Homo sapiens: one gene and its partners. The protein of the gene in region 2 purifies or fractionates together with the protein of the main gene of each other region. This does not show direct contact. Each region holds a gene or a part of one and is shown on either strand. Other genes may lie near its edges. The genes, in order: ZC3H13, TCEAL7, ARGLU1, HABP4, NEMF, C12orf43 and WBP11.

Region 1 (3,500 bases), on a different chromosome or scaffold from region 2:
AGAAGATAGAGGAGAAGGGGTACTACCAGGAGTCGTGGCGGTGGCAGTATGCTCTGCTTCTGTCACCTCTGTACGGTCAGGGACATCCTCATCAGACCAGTCACTGAATGCTGTATCTTCTTTTTTCTGGGAGTCCTCTAGAATACCATTCTTACCATTGCACATTTCAACCAATTCCTCTTTAGTTGTTATAGGGGGAGTCCGTGGGCCTCTTTTCTTCTTACTTTGCTGGGCTGCTTCTTCATCAGAAATATCAGAATCACCTTTGGATTTTTTACGTTTTTTTTCAATGCTTTTCTTTTTCTGTCCTTTTTTTGGTGAAAATACTTGACCATCTTCAGATGTTGTCTCTATGTTACCCCTCTCTATTCCAACATCATCCTCTTTCTTTTTCTTAATTGGTTTCTTTTGAATTTTTGCTTTCTTCTTGTTTTCATCATGAGCTCGATCAGATGTCTCTCGATCTTCAGACTGGTGGTGTCCTATAATGTCCTGTGCACGCATTCTTGAGCTTTCCAGGATTTCTGTCTGTTCTCTCTGTTTATCTACAGAAGAAACTTTCTCCTTGAGTTCCTGTTCTTCGTAGCGCCTTGAACTCTCTTTCCTTTCTGGTTTACGATCCTCCTCTTTCCATCTACCCTGTCTGTCTTCTGTGAGGTGCGAGGGACTAAGAGAACGAGATTCTTGAGGTCGTACAACTTGGCTCAAGAGTCTGTGTTTTTCATCTATATAAAAGATAAAAGCAATCACACTCTCACCAGGTTAGTAACCACTGCATGGTACATATAGATTATAATAATTTCTCCTCACACCTGTAATCCCAGGACTTTGGGAGGCCGAGGCAGGTGGATCATGAGATCAAGAGATCAAGATCATTTAAAAACTTTTAAAATGACAATAATTTTAGTAAAAATAAAAATATGGCTTTACTATAAATAGTAGAAAATGACAGTACTCTAACACATACTTTAGTCACAAAAGGAGATATTTAGAGGCAGCAAAGCAAGACAACTTTTTAAAAATCTTAATTCATCAGTTCCTACTAGTATGAAAGGATGGTTTCATGGTTACAAATGAATATGAATATAGAGAGACAGAAAACAGAGTCTGCTTACTTTTATCATCTCCACTGTTGTAGGCATCACTGTCCGGAGAATGTTCACGCCGGCGCTTCGGGGACTGTCTAGGGCTGGGACTCCCTTCATTTCTATAGCGCTTCCTAAATTGGACAAGCAAACACAATTTATAAAATTCTAGGGGGCAAAAAAAGAGATTTTTTTGTTTTTACTAGTATCTCTTTACTATAACTGGAACATATAATTGTAGGAAAGCAATATTGCCAGAGTGTATCATACAAAGGATATTCAGTGTCTTTAATACAAATTCTTTACTTCATTTGCTAAGAATTGTGAACTTAAAATACACAACATTTCTTCTTCTTCTTCATTATACATGTAGAATAACTCAAGTGAAAATTGCCAGATTTAAATACTGTAAGGTGGTAACATGCAGCACAGAAACCAATATATTAATGTACCCTCTGATATAAACATTCAGCAATTTTGCATTCTTATGATATAAAAATGCCTTATGCTGCAGAGCTGAATGAGAAAACCTAATATTGGCTTTGAAGTAAAAAAGCTATGAGTTCAACTTATAACTACATTAGTTATTACGCAGCCTTAAGTAAGTTCCTTGAAGTCACTGAACCTTAGTTTCTCATCTGAAAATGGTGGGTGGGGCTGAATGGGTGGGAAATGAGAGTCCATTTCATAAAATTGCAGTAAGGAATAAATTAGTTATGTCATAAACCCAGTGCCAAATATGTTGTGGGTACACCATAAAATTAGTTCCTTTCCCCTTCATGGAAATCACTTTCTTGCTGACAAATTAATAAAATAATTCATACGTTCATTATATTTTTTGTTCCTTAGTTGAGCTTTAAATGAGTAGCGTTTTATATCTCTTGGGTACTTAAATTATTCTAGTGTTTTCCCCCATTTTCATTAAAATTTGACTACCTGTTTTTTCACTAACATTGTTTGTTTATAAATACTATGGTCAAAAGTTAAGAAACATATTGTATACATGGACCAATGGAACAGAATAGAAAACCCAGAAATAAAGCCAAATGATCTTCAGCAAAAGCATACAAAACATAACTGGGGAAAGGACACTCTATTTACTAAATGGTGGTGGGAAAATTGGCAAGTCACATGTAAAAGAATGAAACCGGATCCCTCTCAGCTCAAACAAAAATCAGCTCAAGAAGGATCAAAGACTTAAATCTAAAACCTGAAACCATTAAAATTCTAGAAATTAACACTGGGAAAACTCTTTTGGACACTGGCCTAGGCAAAGACTTCATGGCCAAGATTCTAAAAGCAAACGCAACGAAACCAAAAATAAATAAATGGAACCTAATTAAACTAAAAAGCTTCTGCACAGCAAAATAAATAACAAAGACAACCCATAGAATGGGAGAAAATGTTTGCAAACTATGTATCCAACAAAGGACTAGTATCCAGAATCTATAAGAAACTCAAATAAATCAGCAAGAAAAACATAAATAATCCCATCAAAAAGTGGATAAAGGACACGAATAGACATTTCTCAAAAGAAGACATACAAACAGCCAACAAACGTATGAAAAAATGCTCAAAATCACTAATCATCAGGGAAATACAAATTAAAAACCACAATGAGATGCCACCTTACTCCTACAAAAATGGCCATTAAAAAGTAAAAAAAACAGGAGATGTTAGCATAGACATGGTGAAAAGGGAATGCTTATTCACTGCTGGTGGGTATGTAAATAAGTACAACCTCTATGAAAAACAGTATGGAGAGTCCCTAAAGAACTAAAAGGAGATATTTGATCCAGCAATCCCACTACTGGGTATCTACCCAAAGGAAAAGAAGTCATTATATGAAAAAAAAAAACATGCACATATATGTTTATAGCAGCAAAATTCACAACTGTAAAGATATAGAACCAACCTAAGTGCCCATTGGCCAATGGGTGGATAAAGAAAATGTGGTATATATACACCATGAAACCATGGACTACTACTCAGCCATAAAAAGGAAAAAAATAATGTCTTTTGCAGCAACTTGTTCTCACCTGTAAGTGAGAGCTAAGCTATGAGTATGCAAAGGCATACAGAGTGATATAATGGGCTTTGGAGACTCAGAAGGGGGAGGGTGGAAGGGGAGTGAGGGATAAAAACGTACATGTTTGGTACAATGTGGACTACTCAGGTGACAGGTGCACTAAAATCTCTGAATTCATCCAGGTAACCAAAAACCTCTTGTACCCTAAAAGCTATTGAAATAAAAATAAAACAAAAACATACCAGCACATGTATATCATAGACAGCTCCTTTATATAGATGAACAACCATGTGGAGAAGGCCCCAGGTGTAATATGACAACTCACAGGCCCAAGCTTGTGTACTACTTTATCCAAAGCTCCTCTCCCATCAATAACTGGCCTATTT
Region 2 (3,885 bases):
TTCTGACCACTGAACTTTTTTCTGGAGTCATTTATATCAAACTGATTAGTGGTAACTTTATATTCATAATGAGCTGCAATCTTCCTAAAAACAACTTATGAGAAGTTTACACATCTCCCTTTCTATTGCATATATTTCAAGCTAACAAATCAAGAGCAAATCTACTTAGACAAGTACCCAAATCCTTAGCAACAAAAAGTTTAGTGTGTTGGGTGGCTAAATGTGACTAATTTTTGTTAGTACTACAAGTAGCTTTCAATACATCAGTATGGCTAAATAAGGTCATGGAAAACATAAATAGGATGGAGATGTCTAGGGAAAATGAAAAACTATTCTTTTCTGAATGAGAGTGTTGAAAAAAGTTGGGATATTAGGGGTACAGTATTGAAGAAAAAAGGGTTATGTGTATGGTATAAACTGGAAGAAAGAGGGCATGATACTGAGCTCAAACTAGTTAAAATTTGTGACTTACAGTTGCGATCTGGAAATCTAAGGGCAAGGTGCTGTAGGATTATGGTCTCAGTGACTCACCTAATGGAAGGACCTCACATGCCCGGGAGCCCCTCAAAAGAGTAGGTTCCAACTGACCTGTACATCTTAAACTTCAAAAAATATGTCTGCCTAAAGGGTCTATATTTATATTATGACTTCAGCAGCAGAAACAGGTGGCTGGCCTTTTTATCCTCCTATCTGGAATCTTTTTCCAAATGTACATATCTTTATCATATTTCTGATTATTAAAAGTATATAATAAGTTTATGGAAAAATTGGAAAAGAATAAGAAATTATCAAAACAAAAGTAAGAAGCACAATCCAAATCATTACCTCCTTTCCTAATTCACCCCATTCCCTCCAATCTGGTTTCAAGGATTGGACTCCAAGGGAAATGATGGCTATTAGTGGCTGAGAGGCGATTGGATGGAGGAGACTGCCACTTTTCTTTTCTTGTAGCTTAGAAAAGGATAAGTAATCCTCCCTCTCAGCACAACCACAAAAAAAGTAACAATGGTTAATATAACTTTGGGAAAATGCAGCCCCTCCCTGGTAATCAGAGAAAGGCAAATTCTGACCACAGGGAGAAGGCGCCACTTTTGACCTCTGGAATTAGCAAAGACAAAAATGAGTGACAGGGCCTGGTGTGGTGTGGGGTGGGAGGTTGGTAAGCCGGTCCACTTCTGCAGCGCTGCTGGTGGGAGGGGAAAGTGGGGACCAGAGATGGGGGATGACATAATCCTCACGTGATCAGGAGCTGACGTGAACCGAAGTCCTTATATTCCCGGGCTTCTTTCTCCTCTGGGTACCAGCTCCTTACTGCCCTGCAGACAAGCGTGCCGTGCGTGCTTGTGGCCAAGGGAAGGAAGAGGTAAATTCCTTAAATCCCAGCAGGTTGGAGTGAAGGAACCACTGGACCCCCGGGGTCAGTAGTGGGTGAATCTAATGACTGGAATAGGTCCAGACTTGCTTTCCCAAAACCGCTGCAAAATCGTCGGAGATAATTGTATCTTTTGCAGGGGGAAGCAAGGGGGTAGGTCGAAATCTTTTGAGAGACACCTAGAGATTTAGTGACAGCTTTGAAATAATCGGCTTCTCTCACCCTGGCATGCTTTCTTTTTATCCTTCTCCTCATCTTTCTCCAATTTTGTTAAGAGAAAATTTTAGGCCTGGGGTATGTGTTGGTGTGTGGAGAAAGGCTGAAATCCCGGGATGGAGACAACAGAAATTTAGAGATCATTTGAAAATAGTTCACCTCACTCAATGCCGGCCTGTGGTGGTGGGGTGGGGCGCGGGACGGGGCGAAGGAGGGAGACGCGGGCCTTGCAAGGCCCAGGCCTGAGGGTGAGGAGTGGGGAGTGGAAACGGAAATCCTGAAGGAAAGGATACAGACAGGAAGGAGGGGCCAGGAGGTAGAAATCCGGGGGGCGATGACGGTGATGATGAGAATCCCAGGTTCAAAATAATAACGTCTGTCTTGTCTCTGGAGCTGGTTGATCCACAGATAGCTCCTTCCTCCCCGCCCCTTCCTTTTTGTTTGGAGGTCCCAGGATCTGTGTTCACAGACATCTGGGGGAAGAAAAGGAGCAGGAAACTACCCCGCACAGGTCAGTATGAGAGAGGCACTTAGACTGAGATCTCTGAGGATAGGAGTCGGGAAGGGGCAAAAGCTAGGCGAAATTTGCGGCTTCGCAGTCCATCTCCTTTTCTGCTCCGCCTCTCCTGCCTATTGGAGAGGCCATTAGCTTTGTCTGCTGGGGAAACGGTGGGTTCCTGAGGTGGGAGGGGAGAAAAGGGGGAGATGAGAGGGTGGAGGGAACTGCCGCAGACTTATGAGGTCTGGACCTGTGGGGCAGAGATGGGAAAGTATCTTGCCTCAGAGAGAAACTGACAATCGTGATTCAAAAGTAATGAAGCAATTTGTCTTTACATTTTCTCCCTAGAGTTAAGCAGGAAACAACAACAACATCATGCAAAAACCCTGCAAAGAAAACGAAGGAAAGCCAAAGTGCAGCGTGCCAAAGAGGGAGGAAAAACGCCCGTATGGAGAATTTGAACGCCAGCAAACAGAAGGGAATTTTAGACAGAGGCTGCTTCAGTCTCTCGAAGAATTTAAAGAGGACATAGACTATAGGCATTTTAAAGATGAAGAAATGACAAGGGAGGGAGATGAGATGGAAAGGTGTTTGGAAGAGATAAGGGGTCTGAGAAAGAAATTTAGGGCTCTGCATTCTAACCATAGGCATTCTCGGGACCGTCCTTATCCCATTTAATTAATTTCTCTGACAATTCAATTATTTTCTGTTATTAATGTTGCCACTGCTTTCTGTTTGTCTGCACTTTCTTGATAAATATTTGCTATCGTTTTACTCCAGTCATTCGATGTTGCTGAGATTTACATATGACTCTTGTCAACATCTCATCTTTTGACCCAATCTTATTCATTTAATAAGAGGTCTCATTCATTTGCATGGAAAAATGCTCATTGTATATTGCAAAGTGAAAATAACGAGTTGCAAAACAGTGTATACATATATGTGTGTATATATGTACACTTTATTTGTACATTTCTATGTGACATAATGCAAAGGAAAGTGTCTGATTTTATTATACACCAAAGGTTAACAGTGAATCTCTGTGTGATCTCTTTTTTTTTCTTTTTGCCTATCTGCATCTTCTCACTTGCCAAAAAATGAATATATGTTTATGTGTGTATATTACTTGTGTCACAAAAAACCCTAAAGTAGACAGTAAAAGAACTTGTCAATCGCCTTTGGAAGGCAATGAAACACTTAATAAACTCTCAATAACAGAAGCGTAAAAATGAAATGTAAACCTCCAATTACCTCTGGATCTCTTAGCCAGAGTAATAAACTGGTAATTATTACAGATACACACGTTTAAGACTCAGTCTTTTCATAGGGAAAATATTTGCCTCACAGGGCTGCTGTGGGAAGGAAATGAGGCAGTAACCAGCTGTGCTCAGTGGGATCTTGTTCCCCACTGTGCATACAGAATCCCAACCCACTATAGAATACACCAATAACTTCAGAGAGGGCCTGGCATGATTCAACTTGTACTCCGGAACAAGTCCAGTAGGCAGAGGTGGGGGCTTCCCTATCAGTCCTCTGTTATTGAGCCCTGTCTCCTCCCCTGGGTCCTGCCACACCTGCCCAACACTGCTGCCTCTTCTGCTGGGCCCTGTGCTCTCTGCTGGCCCCACTGCTGCTGATGCACTGCAGTCATTCAGGGCCAAAACCCAACCGAATTCCCTGGAGTCGTCAGTGGGTTGAACTCTGACTCTTGTCGTCTAAAGCTTCCTGTGCTTTATAGTGACATTTAACACAGGTGGGACTTCTCTAGGGTTGCTTGGGCCACAATGTCTTTCAGAGC
Region 3 (3,500 bases), on a different chromosome or scaffold from region 2:
ACAGTTTTTCTAACAGTGAACACCTTTTGCCATCTGAGTAGCCTGAGATATTCCCAACATCCAGTGCTGGTGGTTCTTTCTATACTTATCAGTTCATTCTTCAATTTAGCTTTTCTTGCCACTTTACTATAAACAGGAAGAAACCAGGCTGCAACTTCAACACTTACTTAGAATTCTCAGCTAAATATGAAAAAGTTTTAAGTTCTGCCTTATATACAACTGTAGGACACAATTCAGCCAAGCTTTCTATCACTTATAGAAAGGATCTCTTTCCCTCCAGTTTATATGTTCCTAATTTGCTTCTGAGCCCTAACCAGAAGCACCTTTAAAATCCATATTTTTGCCAACAGTCTTTAAAGGCAACATATGCATTTTCTATCATGTGACTCAAAACTGGAGCCTCTACCCACTGTCCAATTCCAAAACCACTTCCACATTTTTAGGTAACATATTACCACAAACTAAACAGCTCAAAATAAATTTATTCTGGAGGCCAGGAGTCTGAAATCAGTATCACTGGGCTGAAAGCAAGGTGTCAGAAGGGTGTCCATTCTCCTTCTGGAGTCTTTAGCGGAGAGTCTGCTCCTTGTCTCTTACAGCTTCTGGTGGCTGCGAGGATTCCTTGGCTTCAGCCTACATCACTTCAATCTTCAACGCCAACATTTCCAAATCTCTCTCCTCTGTCTTTACTTAGCTTCCTTCTCCTGTCTGTGCTATATGCTAAAATTTCCCTCTGCCTCTCTAAGAAAACATGTGATGGCATTTAAGGCCCACCAGATAATCCAGAATAAACTCCCCATTGCAAGATACTTAATCACATCTGCAAAAGCCCCGCCCTCCTTGTCATATATGGGCACATTCAAATTCCAGGCACTAGAATACAGATTGTTTTTCATGGAGAGAGGACAGAAGGGATTTTTCAGCCTATCATACAAACTCATTTAAAAGAAAGCCATCTCGCAAAGCAAACTCTGGTTTATTTCAAACTTATGTATGTGGTACACATTTGATATATAAGCAACTTTCAAACATGGCATATCTTTTCTTCTCTCAAACTGCTGAGATAACAAACTGGTGAGATACAAAGTGGTATAACACGATGAACTTGGCAAGGGGTGAGAAGAAAACTATTTCATTAGTAAAGAGATCTGTAAATCTAGAATTTATAACTTGCATATACTTTAAAACCCCAAACACCCCCATCTCCCATCAAAAGTAATTTGTCCTTCCTTTGACCAGTATGTTACCTAAAATTTTATTAGAAATTATCAATCTATCAATCTATTATTATAGTTTAGGCGTTTACACCAGATTCACTAGCCAGGTTGTACGGTTTGTATTTTACAATCTTGACAAGGGTATAGATTGAGAGTTTCTTCCTTCTGCTGACACAACCTTCTGGAAGAGTATTTTATTCTATAGCAAAATCTATCCCCAATTTTTAAGTCTGTTTCCCTCTCCAAAAAAGTAAAATTCATATACATTTCAGAACAGTATCTGAGATTTTCCCAGGCACATCATAAAAACACCATGAAGACTTCAAAAAATTTTAAGCATTATTTTTAACAAAAGAAAATTAAAATTTTCCATTGTATTAACCCTTCAAATACCTAAAGATAGTTATGTGTCGCCAACACTAACTCAAGAACAAAGAACAATCTGCCAAAAAGCCAAGTCAAGTCATATTTGGATGCTTTTACTTTGTAAATAAAGTATGTTTGTTGGTTAATACTTTTGTCTCTGTTGACAAACCAAATATCTTGGTACACAATGTGGAACTGAAAAAAACAGTAACTACCCATGGATTAGAGCACTTAATGATTTTCACATATGGATGAGCTCGTGTGGCTAGGCTAACACATTCCTTATTAGTCATTACGGGATTCAATCTGTGAACTTGTGTCACAAAAGGCTACTTAAAAGTCAAAAGTATGACTTTAACTTCTTTACTAGTATTTCTATGTGATAAAAAAAAGTGATATACATTACTTGTAGCATGTAGAAACTGAAGAAAAGTATAAAGTTACACGTAAGACTACCAATTAAGGATAACTATTTTTAGCATTTTGGCTTATTTTTCTGTCTCTTAAAATGTGCAAGTATATGTTTCTCAAAATAAAAGGATCATATTGGATATATAAATTTTGTATTTAGCTACCTCCTATTTTGTATTTCCCCTGAATTATCAAATACTTTTTGGCTACAGAAAAACCCACTGTGTAATAATAATGAATCCAACAACTTGGACATTTCTATTTTAAATAATTTGAGAGTATCTTTGTACATAAATTCATTTGTAAATGATTCTATCTCATGAGATAAATTCTTAGACACAGAATTAAAGTTTTTTATATTTACTGATTTACTGTTAATTGTCTTTGGAAACTGTTATACCCATTTAAATTCTCATGATCATCAGGTAAAGAGGTATCTGTATAATAACCCGCCAACACAGGACACTATGAAAAACAATGGCTTTAGGGGATTTCTATTAAGGAAAAAGAAAAGAGGGGGACATTTCTTTGTTTCTCTGAGGTTGAGATATATTTTCAGAAATGTATTGTAGTTGCTTCTTGTCCTACTTGTGTACAAATATCCTTTTTAATTAGGAAGTTAGTCTTCTTTACTGATCTGTAACATCATTGTATTATTTTTTCAGTTAAAATGTTTAAGAAATCTCCCTCCCCACTTCCAAGGTACTTTCATTATCAACTTGTCTTTTCTATAATCCACTTTCCACACAAACTTCTTAGCATACATAAAGTTGGATGGCTGCTACTTTACTATAGCTCCTTCTTCCAATATCCCAAGTTTCCACACCCTAGCCTTTGTTTTATTCTACTACCCCAAAGGCCTTTGCCCTGTTTCATTTCCTCACACTCTTGTCTACCTCCTAATAGAATTTCCACCTACCCATCAGGGCCCAGCTCAAGGGACTACCTCTTCTAGGAAGGTTTCCGAGGCCACCCAGGGCAACTATGTCATTATCTTACATTACCTATACCACTTACCAAATATTTCCATGGTATTAGTAACTTTTTTTGGAGTTGTCTTTGTTTCCAAAATATGTTAAATTATTTTAAAGCACTTAATGGCTTGTCTACTTTTCCATCCAGTTGTTTTTCTCAATATAGATTTTAGCAAACAGTTACCTTTGATCACCCTTCATCATTCATCACTTTCTAGAGGCCAGAATGCTTCTCATTCTTCTTGCTTTATATGGTATCAAGTACTTTTAATAGGAGTTTGAATGTATTTTACATATTTCCCAATAAACATACATAAAGATTAAAGAATAGTGCTCAAAATTGAGAGGAAGGGGAAGGAAAAAGGCAATAAAAGTGGAAGTGGGCCTCAACGTGTACCGTGCCATCTTTATACATTTTTTGTCTCCTCCTACACAAAGAATACCCTACTTTTCCTGCCAGCATATGACTACCAACAGAACCAAATAAAAAACTTTTCTTGGCCGGGCGCGGTAGCTCACGCCTGTAATCCCA
Region 4 (3,500 bases), on a different chromosome or scaffold from region 2:
CTATTTTTTCATGTCACATATAAAGATCTATTTTATCCTTTTTAAAGACTACACAGTCTTGCTACTAAAAAAGGGGGGAAACATGGGTTTGTGCAAGTGAACTATAATTTCCTCATTTCCACAGAATCCCTAAAGTGAGGGGAAAATAAATACCCAAATGCTTCCAAAAATAAGCAGCTCTGCTACAAGAAGCTTTGCAGAAACAAGGAGACTGTGCTTACTACACAGCAGATTTGAAGTAATCACCAAAAAAGGTGCAAAATTAAGGCTTTCTGTAAGTTTCTCCCTCCAACATGGTTGCAGATAGACTATCTCAATGTCTTGAATGTGTAACTTCCAGGTGAACAGTTCTGCATGAGTCATCACCTGCTCAGCCCACCCAGGCTAAGTTACTCTCTGCTGGACTTTTGTTTTGTTTTGTTTTTAATAGGCTCTATAGTATAGTTTTACAAAGCCACATTTTTTGGTTAAAACTTGTAGCCAGAATCCTAAATGGAATGGAATTAGCAGTCAAGAAGCAGAAAGAGTTTGGAAAAATGGCTCCCTTGACATATAACTGTTCACTATTCTAGTCTTCCTTAGCTTGTTTAACTTTATTTTCCTTGAAATGTGATTCACTACTTGTTTCTGTTTAACATAAACAGGTTTAATGATTAAACAAAGACTTTAAGCAGCAAGTGCCAAACATAAGACACAACCCCTCCCCGTGTTGAGGTGGAGTGCGGTGGCCACCATGCTGCCACATCACTAAGCAGCGACGCAACACTCCACCAGCCCACGACTTCTGTCCATGTTAGAGTACTTCGGAGAGCAGCCATGCCCTCCAGAAATTGGTATTACACATCATAACAGACTCTTCTTCAAATTTCATCATGGCAGCCTACTGACCTGACCGTGGAGCTAGGAATTTATTTCAATCCATTGAGCAGTCTAAATTGGTAATGTGAAATCAAAAACCATAATTATATCCCTAGTCCAAAATTATATCTCTAATCTAGAACTTCAAAAGAAAACCAGTTCAACACACTCCTGTGTAATTTCTTTTTAAGAGTGCTCTTCAGTTACCAACAAGCAATTCATTTTTAATTGTACAATCATTTCCTGAACCAAGACGTAAAGGCATCTATGAGGAAAAAGGAAGATCCTTCCCATCATCTAAGGTAACATGAATTGCACATAAATTAGTAAAACATTCCTAGGACTGGTACCACAAAAAGCAGTAGCCAGTAGAAAGTTGTATTTTCTGGGCCGGGCATGGTGGCTCACTCCTGTAATCCCAGCACTTTTGGCAGGCCAAGGCAGGTGGATCACCTGAGGTTGGGAGTTCAAGACTAGCCTGACCAACATGGAGAAACCCCGTCTCTACTAAAAATACAAAATTAGCCGGGCGTGGTGGCACATGCCTGTAATCCCAGCTACTTGGGAGGCTGAGGCAGGAGAATTGCTTGAACCCGGGAGCGGAGGTTGCAGTGAGCCGAGATCGCACCATTGCACTCCAGCCTGGGCGACAAGAGCGAAACTGTCTCAAAAAAAAAAAAAAAAGAAAGAAAGAAAAGAAAAAGAAAGTAGCATTTTCTCAAAACCTTTCTGGTTCCCCACCCGCCCTGCTGAGGACTGCAGCACATACTTTTCATCTGGAAACTTCTCAGCTGTGAAGTCTGCCTGCCTCTCTGTCTCATAGGGTCGGTATTCCCTGTAGGATCTCCGCTCAGCTCTTTCGAGCATCCCCTCCGGCCCACGGCTGTCATTCCATCCTTGCTGCTCCCCTCTTCTAGGAGTCCGCTTCTGGCCTACCAACAGAAAATCAAAGCAGAGAGCTGGAACACAACATCTGCAACAGCACACTATTAAACTTTACAGGTACTTGTAAATTTCATTTTTCTAGAAATCAACGTCATAGGAGAATTCAGGAAGTTTAGAAAACTTCAAAGAAAAAAGTTGCTGATACTACAACTGCCCACAGTCTACTTTTTAATAGGATGTTACTATTAAATCATGCTTTCCCTATATCCTAGAAAGTATATGACCAACTAAGCTCACCTATAATTACAGGCATCTCCCAATAACTGTGACAGCCATGGGTACATTTTACTAAATAAGCTACAGTTCACAAAAGCAGTCTTACAAAAACACAGTGTGTAAGCCGTACCTAGAAAATGAAAGAATACCCTATATTTCAGACTGTACTTTTAGAATCCCAACTGCACATTACATAGCAACTATGGCTTATCACTGGCTACTAAGGTTTTTGTTTTTATTTTGTATTTTTTTAATTTATTTACTTAATTACTTATTTTGAGACAGAGTCTTGCTCTGTCACCCAGCCCGAAGTGCAGTGCACTGTTTAATCTTGGCTCACTGCAATCTCCGCCTCCCAGGCTCAAGCAATTCTCATGCCTCAGCCTCCCAAGATGCTGGAATTACAGGCATGTGCCACCATGCCCAGCTAATTTTTGTATTTTTAATAGAGACAGGGTTTCACCATGTTGGCCAGGCTGGTCTCGAACTCCCAGCTTCAAGCAATTCACCCACCTCACCCTCCTGAAGCACTGGGATTACAGGCATGAGCCTCAGCGCCTGGCCAAGGTTTTTGTTTTTAAAGTTTGTAGTGCTTATATTTTTACTTTGAAAACAGATTTTCCTGCTATTCTATGAGATATATAGACTTGCAGTTATAACTTCCTGAATATGAACCAAACACTGCTATTTGGCAACTTGCCCAAGAGTCAGCCAGTACTTGAGGGCATCTCTTTTTGTCCACTCAGTCCAGCACTTGGACACTGTGCTGGGACCACAGACTCTGGTTTTGTTCTTGTGTTTTTTTTTTGAGACTGAGTTTCACTCTTGTTGCCCAGGCTGGAGTGCAATGGCCCGATCTCGGCTCACTGCAACCTCCGCCTCCCGGGTAGAGATTAGCTGGGATCACAGGCCTGCGCCACCACGCCTGGCTAATGTTGTATTTTCAGTAGAGACGACGTTTCTCTAACCTGGTCAGGCTGGTCTCCTCAGCCTCCCAAAGTGCCAGGATTACAGGCGTGAGCCACCGTGCCCGGCCGAGACTCTGGTCTTTTCCTCTGTCCTGTCACCTTGCTTTACTCCCCTTTAGTTTTAATGCTTTAAACATCTTAAGCAAAGTCTATGTTTGAAGCCATCTAATACTTGGTAAATACATTGTGGAGAACTTTGTCACATCTTTAATCTTCAAAAAAAGTCTATCTTTTTTTATATACATTTAAAAGATCTCCTCTCACTATGTGCAATATTTACTATAGTGGCTTCAATTTTTCTTGGTACAAATTACTCTCCACATTAGTTGTATAGCTATGACATTTATTCAAGTTAATGGATATATATATATATATATATATATATATATATATATATATATTTTTTTTTTTTTTTTTTTTTTGAGATGGAGTCTTGCTCTGTTGCCCAGGCTGGAGTACAGCGGCGCCATCTCGGCTCACTGCAAGCACCGCCTCCCGGGTTCACGCCATTCT
Region 5 (2,603 bases), on a different chromosome or scaffold from region 2:
AAAAAACAAGAATTAAGTCCTTTTGGTGAATATAGCAAGGCAATGTTTAGTTCATTTGGCCTGTAATATATATATTAGATGTTATATACAGTAGACTTACCAAGTCAATAGTTTAAGCAATCAAGCCACTTCACTGTTCAGTTTCTTTACATCATGAAATGAATACTTGGTATTAACCTCCCAAATTTCAAGAAAATGTAGAATAACTACAGATGTATATTAATTAGCATTTAACTGTCCACAAATACTTTTGGAAATCCTATCATAGACAGTGTTTCCTCTATATAAAACTGGGAAAAAACAAGAAGTAAGTCCTTTTGGTGAATATAGCAAGGCAATGTTTAGTTCATTTTTATAATGCGGAAATCCTGATACATGGTGCTTTCATCTTTGAACTTCCAAAAGGCTATAAAATTGGCTCTTCTCAAATATTTTAGAATTTCATTTCAGCTATTTCCTTTTTACGTTCAGAAGATTGGGTGCAGACACTTTCACTTTGCCAGGAATGTTTCTTGATAAATCTGTGTCCTAAAAAAAGAAAATTGCTGAATATCTTCACATCCTGTATGGTCAATCATGTTTCTTTTATGACAAAAACGAAAAACATTTCCAAACTTTTAGCTGAGATGGTTTTACTGCTTCTAATAAGACAGCATTTTCTACTAAAATAACAAAAAACTGCTAACATTTTAAATTGTACTGTCAGTCTCCACATTCCTTTTCTGAAGGAGAACTTTACCTTTACGCTGCGGAATAAGTCTTTTTCTCTTGCTGTTGCTTCTTTGGAATGCATGAAACTATTCAAGGCTGTTTTTGCAGCTGTAAATACAAAAAAGAGTAAGAATAATCTACTGTTAAGTCACTGAACTGTTTAAAATCATAATTCAAAAAAACAAATTTAAATACCTTTTCCCTTTTTCTGCACTCCAGGAGTAAGTTTCACTTTATATCTTTAAAAAGGAATTACATGTGTTACTAAATAGACGTTACAAAACAATTCACAAAAGCCATTCTGTCAACTAATGGTAACTTACTTGTAGTTTGTCATGGTGGTGTAAGGGGCACATATTGGAATGGCAAACAGTAGTACATCTTCAGGATGTGGCTGGCCTGTCAAAGAATCAAATAGGTTTTCCTAAAAAGGGAAAATAACAGTTACAAAGGCAATTTATACCGCCCTTTACAAAAAATGCTAAAACACTTGAATTAGTATCTCAACATATTTTTTATCTTTTCCTGATATACATACCATCTAAGCTGGAACAGTGGTACTTAAACTCTGCTTCATAGTTCCAAAGAGTTGAAGACCAATGTTTAAATATATTCTTTACTACTTAATTTTTGCCTAGCATAATAAGTAATGAGAACAATAATTTTCAAAATCCTACCTACAGTTACATTTAAGAGAAAGAAGGCCCAGGAGCAGTGGTTCACGCCTATAATCCTAGGACTCTGGAAGGCTCAGGCTGAGGCGGGTGGATCGCTTGAGCCCAGGAGTTCAAGACCAGCCTAAGCAACATGGAGAAACACCATCTCTACAAAAAATATAAAAGTTAGCTGGGTATAGTGGGTGCCTGTAGTCCCAGCTACTCGGAAGACTGAGGGGGGGAGGATCACCTGAGCCCAGGAGGTAGACGTTGTGGAGAGCCATGATCCTGTCACTGCACTGGGTGACACCAGCCTGGGTGACAGAGACCCTGTCTCAAAAAAAAAAAAAAAAGGAAAAAAACTATTGGATATTACCTGAGTTGCAGAAACCTGCTGTGGATTAAAATGATGCAATAATAACCACAAATAGATTTAAGTCCTATCACATGGAAATGGGACTAATACCTTGGCTATACCACTATTTCTCGTCCTGGGGAGATTCTGCCCTCAGAAGACAATGGGCAATGTCTAGAGATAGTTTTCGTTGACACGATGAGGGGTGAGAAGGAATAGGTAGGGGCTGCTACTGGGATCTAGTGGGTAAAGGCCGAGGATGTCGCTAAACATTTTATAATGAATGGGACAGACCCCACAACAAAGAATTAACCAACCCCTAATGTTAATAGTGCCAAAGTTGAGAAACCCTGGGCTAGAACAGCCTTCTCTCTTACCCATTATTAAGGAGAAATCCCAGAGTTCTTATTTGCTGTGCTGCCTGTGAGATTGCCCCCATTTATTTTACAATATGAATAAACTTAGATTTAGGACAGAATGCTTGGTGCTGAAGTATAATTAATATTTGAGTGTTTGCTATGTGCCATAAACTTTTCTAAATGCCCTTTACATACATTAGTTATCAAAACAACCCTCTCCTGGGTAGGGACATTATCCCCATTCTTCAGATGAGGAAACTGAGGCACAAAGAATGTTTCCAAGTTTGTACAGTTACATATAGCAGAGTTGGGATTAAGACCCCGAAAGTTTGACTTCGTAGCCTGCAGTCTTGTCTTAGGTTTCTAAGTTTTAATAAGTTGTGTTTCAAACATTCTGGGAACTGAATTGTAATCACAGTGTTGTAGTAGGAACCCCAACATAAAATCATACCTCATTTCCCTGTTGATCCAGATCTTGCTCTTCCTGTTCCGAACATATAAAAATAAAAATGTCAGCTATAA
Region 6 (3,500 bases), on a different chromosome or scaffold from region 2:
CAACCATGAGAGTAAGAGAGGAACATCGAGAAGCTCATTCCCGCCACAAGAGGGCAAGGAAGGACCGTGTTCCTATTTCTTGGGTGCCTTCTGTATGCTAGACACTGTGCCAGGTCTCTATCTTACATTCTCAGCACAGGTTGATAACCCAGTCGGTAAGGATTCAGGTTGGCATTCCTAAAGTAGGTGTCAAGGATACAACCTGTTTGAGTCCATATGGGCTGCTATAACAAAATAACATAAACTGGGTAGCTTATAAACAAAATAAATGTATTTCTCACATTTTGGAGGCTGAGAAGTCCAAGATCAAGGCACCAGCAGATTCAGTGTCTGGGGAGAGCCCTCTTCCCAGTACAGATGGCGCCTTCCTACTGTGTCCTCACATAGTGGCATGGGCGAGGGGTCTCTCTCAGACCTTTTTTATAGGAGCAGCAATTTCATTCATCAAGGCTCCACCCTCCCGACCTAATCACCTCTCAAAGGCCCCCATCTCCTAATCCTAATACCTTGGGTTGAGGATTTCTCTTTTTCTTTTCTCTTTTTGGAGACAGAGTCTCCCTCTGGAGCACAGTGGCGTGATCTCGGCTCACAACAACCTCCAGTTCCTGGGTTCAAGCGATTTTCATGCCTCAGCCTCCTGAGTAGCTGGGGTTACAGGTGCGCACCCACCACGCTTGGCTAATTTTTTGTATTTTTTGTATTTTCAGTAGAAATGGGTTTTCATTATGTTGGCCAGGCTGGTCTCGAACTCCTGACTTCAAGTGATCCACCGGCTCGGCCTCCCAGAGTGCTGGGATTGCAGGTGTAAGGCACCATGCCCAGCTGGGGTGAGGATTTCACCATAAGAATTTGGGGAGGACACAAACATTTGGATTCTAGCACTAGCCCAAAGCGTGGCTTTAGAAAAAAGGAGGTCCAACAGCAAAGAAGCGTGAGAAACACTGCAATCTACATACCTCCACGTGTCCTTGCAGACTGCAAGCCAGAGTAGTATATTCAAGGCTCTGAGAATTCCTGTAGTGAAGAGACCTGTGTAACTGTTTAGCCCAGCATTTTCCAAACTTGTTTGGCCACAGTGCCTTTGTTTCATGGAAAACCAGTCAACAACCTGCGGAACAGGTCTGGGGATACACTGGTCTAGATCTGTTCCTGACTGGCAGAGCCCTGGCAGGGTTTTGAAAGGGAGATGAGGCAGGATTTGGGGCCATTGTCATTCCATTCAAAGTAGATATCAAAAAGGACAAATGAGCCTTCCCAAAGTGTGAACCAGCTATTCTTCTGAGACAGAATGATGGGCCAGAGCCCCGCAGCCTGAATCCCACAGGGTTCCCCTCAATTGGAGAAAGTAGAGGAGGTGTTTAGGAAGGCAGCTGCATTTCAGCCTGTGGGAGCAGTTTTCCTTTGTGACTCTCTGGCTTCAGGCTGAACAGGGCCTGCTTGGCATTGCACTGAGTCACAGAGATGTTTCTGCAGTAGAAATGCCAGTCAGCCATGGTTAGAATATTCCCTGCAGCATTTTCATGTTTCTCCAAAGAAATCTAAATGATACCTTAGGCCAGGCGTGGCAGCTCATGCCTCTGATCCCAGCACTTTGGGAGGCTGAAGCGGGTGGATCATTTGAGGACAGGAGTTCGAGACCAGCCTGGCCAACATGGTGAGACCCCATCTCTACTAAAAATGCAAAAATTAGCTGGGCATGGTGGCGTGCACCTGTTATCCCAGCTACTTGGGAGGCTGAGGTAGGAGAATCGTTTGAACCCAGGATGCAGAGGTTGCAGTGAGCTGAGATCGTGCCACTGCACTCCAGCCTGGGTGACAGAGTGAGATCCCATCTCAAAAAAAAAAAAGGAAATGTAAATGATACTGCATTTGGTCCCTAGTGTTAGGTCAGTGTCTCTCAACCTTGGCGCTACTGACATCTTTGACTAGCATTTGTCGTGGGGGTCTATCCTTCTTCTTCCCATTATAGGATGTTTACCAACATCCCTGGCCTCTACCTACTAGATGATAGTAGCACTCACCCCACCAGTTGTGACATCCAAAAATGTCTCCAGACATTGCCAAATGCCCCTGATGGCCACCATTGAACCACTGTGTGGGGTCAAGAACAGGTGCCTGGGTGGCATCATCTCTACTCCCTCTCCCCGGGTTGCTTTTCCTGAACAGGGCTTGGGGGGCACCTTTGGCATACAGGAAGGGAGGTTAGGGAAAGCACCCAGGGCATTGCTGCGTCTGCCTCGAGGGCATTGCTGAGAGCCTTGTTCTCTGCTGTGCACAGTGGCATCTCCATCTGCACTCACCAGACACATGCTTCCTGGCCTTGTGCCTCTAGAGAAATGTGGTTTATTTTTATGTTAGAGAGCCTGTGAAGGCTGAAGCTTTTCTTGATGACAGTCATCATCTGCATCGTCATCATAGCTACCATTTGCTGAGCAGCTACTTGTGGCTAGGCCGTGTGCCACAAGTGCTTGATATCCATTTTCCCCTTCAATCCTTGTGACAACCTTAAGAGGTAGGGACCTTCATCGTTCCCACTGCACAGGTGGATAACAGAGACTCAGAGAGATAAAGTCATTTGCTTAAGGGACATAGCTAATAAGTGACAAAACCGGGATTCAAAACCCAGGTCTCTGAAGTCTGAATGAGGTCCATGAATTGGATCAATTTGCATTTCCTAGTTGTGATGTTGTACTATAGCGAGGCACAATGTTACCATTGCGAGAAAATGGATGGAGGGTCTATGGAACATCTGCATTATTTGTTGCTACTGCATGTCTACAATTATCTCCAATTTCTTTTAATTAAAAAAAAAAATTTAAAAACAGGTCTGCCCTGCTCCAGAAGCTGTCCTCTGAACCAGTTTTCTAGATTGGTCATATTTCCCTTTTCATGCTTGCTGCTAGGAAGCTCAGAGCAAAATGTATGCCCTCTCTCTAACAAGTGTATAGGACTTCCTGACTACACTTCTAGGTCTTTCTGTTCCTCTTGCCCTTATATCTCTTTGTCCTATTTGAAATTGCATTCATTTTGTTAAATTCTTTTCTTTTTTTGGAGATGGAGTCTTGCTCTGTCACCCAGGCTGGAGTGCAGTGGCGCAGTCTCAGTTCACTGCAAGCTCCGCCTCCCAGGTTCACGCCATTCTCCTGCCTCAGCCTCCCGAGTAGCTGGGACTACAGGCGCCCGCCACCATGCCCGGCTAATTTTTTGTATTTTTAGTAGAGATGGGGTTTCACCGTGTTAGCCAGAATGGTCTCGATCTCCTGGCCTCATGATCTGCCTGCCTTGGCCTCCCAAAGTGCTAGGATTACAGGCGTGAGCCACCATGCCTGGCCTCATCTTGTTTTACTATGTCTTTAAAACTTCTTCAACACTTACTGGAATAAAGTGGGCTTTAAAGAAATGAAGCACTGCAGTTCGCGTGGCAGAGGCTGGTCAGCATGTTATAACCAGACCATCAGCCCTCTTACTAGGCCAGCACGCTTTCGCTTTTGCATTTACAA
Region 7 (3,500 bases), on a different chromosome or scaffold from region 2:
AAAGTATAAAAAGATTATTTATGAAATGAAGCAACAGAGAACTTTTCAGCTATTTGTGATTTTAGTCCTTCATCCTATTGTCAGCCTACTAAGTTTTCTTCAGTTGAGCTAATCATTTTCCGATTGGTGCAAAGCAAAGTTACCTATTTTATGTCATTCTTAGTGGTCTTTGTCTATATATTCATGAGTTTCAAGGGGTCCTTAAAGCATTGTGTTTTATATTCCATTTTCAGCTTATACTGGAACCATTTAAGAATTCTTATCACCTTTGTATATTTCCAACATTGCGGAGCTGTGATTGAATATGCTTTTTGTCAGTGTTGGGAAATAAAGTGAAAAGATCCACAACAAATCCAGTACCATTTTTCTGGTGCTCAGATATATTTTTTTTTTTAAGACGGAGTCTTGTTCTGTCACCCAGGCTGGAGTGCAATGGCGCAATCTCAGCTCACTACAAGCTCCGCCTCCCGGGTTCACACCATTCTCCTGCCTCAGCCTCCCAAGTAGCGGGGATTACAGGTGTCTGCCACCATGCCCGGCTAATTTTTATGTATTTTTAGTAGAGATGGGGTTTCACCATCTTGGCCAGGATGGTCTTGAACTCCTGACCTTGTGATCCACCCACTTCAGCCTCCCAAAGTGCTGGGATTACAGGCATGAGCCACCATGCCCGGCTGTACTCAGATATTTATTGAATGAATTCTGTTTCCATGTATGTTTCATTAACTTCTTGAAGTTAATCTGATTTCAGGTTAAAGTCAAACCATATTTGAGTTACTTTTAAGCCATAATTATTACTTAGTGTACATTTGTGTGACATTAATTTATCATTTTTCTCTTTTCAGGAGCTCCTCCATTCCTGAGACCACCTGGAATGCCAGGACTCCGAGGGCCCTTACCCCGACTTTTACCTCCAGGACCACCACCAGGCCGACCCCCTGGCCCTCCCCCAGGTCCACCTCCAGGTCTGCCTCCTGGTCCCCCTCCTCGTGGACCCCCACCAAGGCTACCTCCCCCTGCACCTCCAGGTGATGCTTTCAATTTCTATAATAAAAACTTAGCCTGCTGTTTATTTAATTTGCTCTAAGACATATGGTCACATTTCAGTATTCTGAAATCTGAGGTCATCTTACAGTCAGTGGTGGTTTTTAAGTTGCCGTTGACCTGGCTTGAAGTACAGTTCTTCCAGTGGGTATTTGCACTTGGTTCACTTGAGGAACTTGTAGCCAGAGAACATGGGATTAAATTCTCTATTTGATAATTTTTTGGTTTTAGTTGTAGTTACGAAGCCGTTTCATGCATCTGCATGAGTACCAACTTAAAGTTTAAAATTAGAGTGTTTTTTTCCCTTACCTCTACCTAATGTCAAGGTTAGACATGCAGATTTTCTTGTGGGCTTGTTTTATGTGGTAGGTATATTTCTAGTTTACAACACTGAAATGTCCCAGTTTCATGTGAATATCTGCTTTTCAGTGCCCCAGCTGGGGCTTTTTTTCCTCTCTCTCTCTCAGTGGTACACAGAATAATTATGAGTTTGTAATCAATAGGATCTTAGATTTGATAAAATGTACTTAATATTTCATTTAAAAGTGGTATTTGAAGAACTGAAATCTGCAGTTCTTGGTATATGAATATTGTGTATGTCTGAACTGTCCATAGGACATGAGTTCTTTTCCAGTAATGATGACAGATTGTGATTAGTTGCATTCTCTTACTCCATGTGCATTGTTTTTTTCTTTGAGACGGAGTTTCATTCTTCTTGCCCAGGCTGGAGTGCAATGGCGCGATCTGAGCTCACTGCAACCTCCGCCTCCTGGGTTCAAGCAATTCTCCTGCCTCAGCCTCCCAAGTAGCTGGGATTACAGGCGTGCACCACCACGCCCAGCTAATTTTGTATTTTTAGTAGAGACAGGGTTTCATCATGTTGGTCATCAGGCTGGTCTCGAGCTCCTGACCTCAAATGATCCACCCGCCTCAGCCTCCCAAAGTGCTGGGATTACAAGTGTGAGCCACCATGCTCGGCCTCCGTATGCATTTGATGACCAGGGTTAAAATTTTATTTCCTGCCCATTGACCTTTTTGTGCAGGGGAAATGGTATGGAATATAATGCATGGGGATCAGTCTCCTGACCTTGTCCTTACTAATACCTGCACTATGCAGCTGGAATAGAACCTTGGGATGTGAGATTTGAGATAGTAATTTGAAACCAGTTGATGTCCCTTTATATTTTAAAGTAGGATGTTATTTAGAGAAGAAGAGAACATAATACTGTAAGTACAGGAATATAGGCTGAAGGTAAATACTGTTTTATAATAAAATATTCCTGAGTTTCAAATAGCAACCAATATGAATTCAGCTTATTTTCTGTAAGTTGTTATCCATTTATTTAAAAATTGGCAACCAATATTTAAATGTCCTTAATAGTAGTTAAATTTTATTAGTTCTTACAGTATTCATCTTGCCTATTTTATTCATTTAGGTATTCCTCCACCTCGTCCTGGCATGATGCGCCCACCTTTGGTGCCTCCCCTTGGACCTGCCCCCCCTGGGCTGTTCCCACCAGCTCCCTTGCCAAACCCTGGGGTTTTAAGTGCCCCACCCAACTTGATTCAGCGACCCAAGGCGGATGATACAAGTGCAGCCACCATTGAGAAGAAAGCCACAGCAACCATCAGTGCCAAGCCACAGATCACTAATCCCAAGGCAGAGATTACTCGATTTGTGCCCACTGCACTGAGAGTACGTCGGGAGAATAAAGGGGCTACTGCTGCTCCCCAAAGAAAGTCAGAGGATGATTCTGCTGTGCCTCTTGCCAAAGCAGCACCCAAATCTGGTCCTTCTGTTCCTGTCTCAGTACAAACTAAGGATGATGTCTATGAGGCTTTCATGAAAGAGATGGAAGGGCTACTGTGACAGCTTTTGATGCCAGAAAAGGCTTCTGTTCACAACAGTGGCCCATGGAGAAAGAGGCTCTTATTAAACTTAGATGAAAGAGCTGCTTCCATTGTCAGGGTATTTTCTAATTTCAGTTCAAGGAATATCCTAAAATTTAGCCTTGTTCAGAATTTACTGCACATAAAAAAGGGTATTTCATCCAGAATAGATCAGTTATTGAAGCAGTGCTGCTAACATCCATTCCCTTTCATACCACCATTTTCACCCTGTTTCTTCCCCTCCTCCAGTTCTTTGGAAATTTGTGATCGGGGGATCTTAGTTGCTTATTTGTTTTGACTCTTGTGTGCTGTGGGCACTGGAGTAGAGATTTCTGGAGAAAAAAAAACAGTTTATTTCATCTTGCCTTTTGTGTTTGAGTTATTTTTAATATTTTCCTGTAAATATTTTGTAATATTTTACTTGTAATGAAATGGATCACAATGTCATTTCCTAATACAAGGCAGGATATGTGGGAAGAATATGTACAATTATTTGATTAAAATTATTTCCCACTGACCTAAACTTTCAGTGATTTGTGGGAAAAATAAATAAATGTTCTACACCA

Evidence for each region.
Region 1: the proteins of TCEAL7 (region 2) and ZC3H13 purify together in Homo sapiens (affinity purification with mass spectrometry; one large-scale study listed by BioGRID and IntAct). This does not show direct contact.
Region 3: the proteins of TCEAL7 (region 2) and ARGLU1 purify together in Homo sapiens (affinity purification with mass spectrometry; one large-scale study listed by BioGRID and IntAct). This does not show direct contact.
Region 4: the proteins of TCEAL7 (region 2) and HABP4 purify together in Homo sapiens (affinity purification with mass spectrometry; one large-scale study listed by BioGRID and IntAct). This does not show direct contact.
Region 5: the proteins of TCEAL7 (region 2) and NEMF purify together in Homo sapiens (affinity purification with mass spectrometry; one large-scale study listed by BioGRID and IntAct). This does not show direct contact.
Region 6: the proteins of TCEAL7 (region 2) and C12orf43 purify together in Homo sapiens (affinity purification with mass spectrometry; one large-scale study listed by BioGRID and IntAct). This does not show direct contact.
Region 7: the proteins of TCEAL7 (region 2) and WBP11 purify together in Homo sapiens (affinity purification with mass spectrometry; one large-scale study listed by BioGRID and IntAct). This does not show direct contact.

The regions. Positions count from the first base shown.
Region 1 is NC_000013.11:45,969,247-45,972,746, forward strand, and holds part of ZC3H13 (zinc finger CCCH domain-containing protein 13), read right to left. Parts: intron 1,220-3,500; coding exon 1,116-1,219; intron 726-1,115; coding exon 1-725. UniProt on the Homo sapiens protein: Associated component of the WMM complex, a complex that mediates N6-methyladenosine (m6A) methylation of RNAs, a modification that plays a role in the efficiency of mRNA splicing and RNA processing.
Region 2 is NC_000023.11:103,328,942-103,332,826, forward strand, and holds TCEAL7 (transcription elongation factor A protein-like 7), read left to right. Parts: upstream 1-1,297; 5' UTR 1,298-1,363; intron 1,364-1,981; 5' UTR 1,982-2,099; intron 2,100-2,435; 5' UTR 2,436-2,462; coding exon 2,463-2,765; 3' UTR 2,766-3,385; downstream 3,386-3,885. UniProt on the Homo sapiens protein: Plays a role in the negative regulation of NF-kappa-B signaling at the basal level by modulating transcriptional activity of NF-kappa-B on its target gene promoters.
Region 3 is NC_000013.11:106,551,138-106,554,637, forward strand, and holds part of ARGLU1 (arginine and glutamate-rich protein 1), read right to left. Parts: intron 1-3,500. UniProt on the Homo sapiens protein: Dual function regulator of gene expression; regulator of transcription and modulator of alternative splicing. General coactivator of nuclear receptor-induced gene expression, including genes activated by the glucocorticoid receptor NR3C1.
Region 4 is NC_000009.12:96,456,669-96,460,168, reverse strand, and holds part of HABP4 (intracellular hyaluronan-binding protein 4), read right to left. Parts: intron 1,791-3,500; coding exon 1,628-1,790; intron 1-1,627. UniProt on the Homo sapiens protein: Ribosome-binding protein that promotes ribosome hibernation, a process during which ribosomes are stabilized in an inactive state and preserved from proteasomal degradation.
Region 5 is NC_000014.9:49,784,186-49,786,788, forward strand, and holds part of NEMF (ribosome quality control complex subunit NEMF), read right to left. Parts: intron 2,598-2,603; coding exon of another isoform or gene 2,566-2,597; coding exon 2,533-2,565; intron 2,201-2,532; exon of another isoform or gene 1,405-2,200; coding exon of another isoform or gene 1,395-1,404; exon of another isoform or gene 1,136-1,394; coding exon 1,035-1,135; exon of another isoform or gene 951-1,034; coding exon 907-950; exon of another isoform or gene 820-906; coding exon 740-819; exon of another isoform or gene 529-739; coding exon 451-528; 3' UTR 1-450. UniProt on the Homo sapiens protein: Key component of the ribosome quality control complex (RQC), a ribosome-associated complex that mediates the extraction of incompletely synthesized nascent chains from stalled ribosomes as well as their ubiquitin-mediated proteasomal degradation.
Region 6 is NC_000012.12:121,006,488-121,009,987, reverse strand, and holds part of C12orf43 (protein CUSTOS), read left to right. Parts: intron 1-3,500. UniProt on the Homo sapiens protein: Plays a role in the regulation of Wnt signaling pathway during early development.
Region 7 is NC_000012.12:14,786,479-14,789,978, reverse strand, and holds part of WBP11 (WW domain-binding protein 11), read left to right. Parts: intron 1-845; coding exon 846-1,028; intron 1,029-2,480; coding exon 2,481-2,914; 3' UTR 2,915-3,500. UniProt on the Homo sapiens protein: Activates pre-mRNA splicing. May inhibit PP1 phosphatase activity.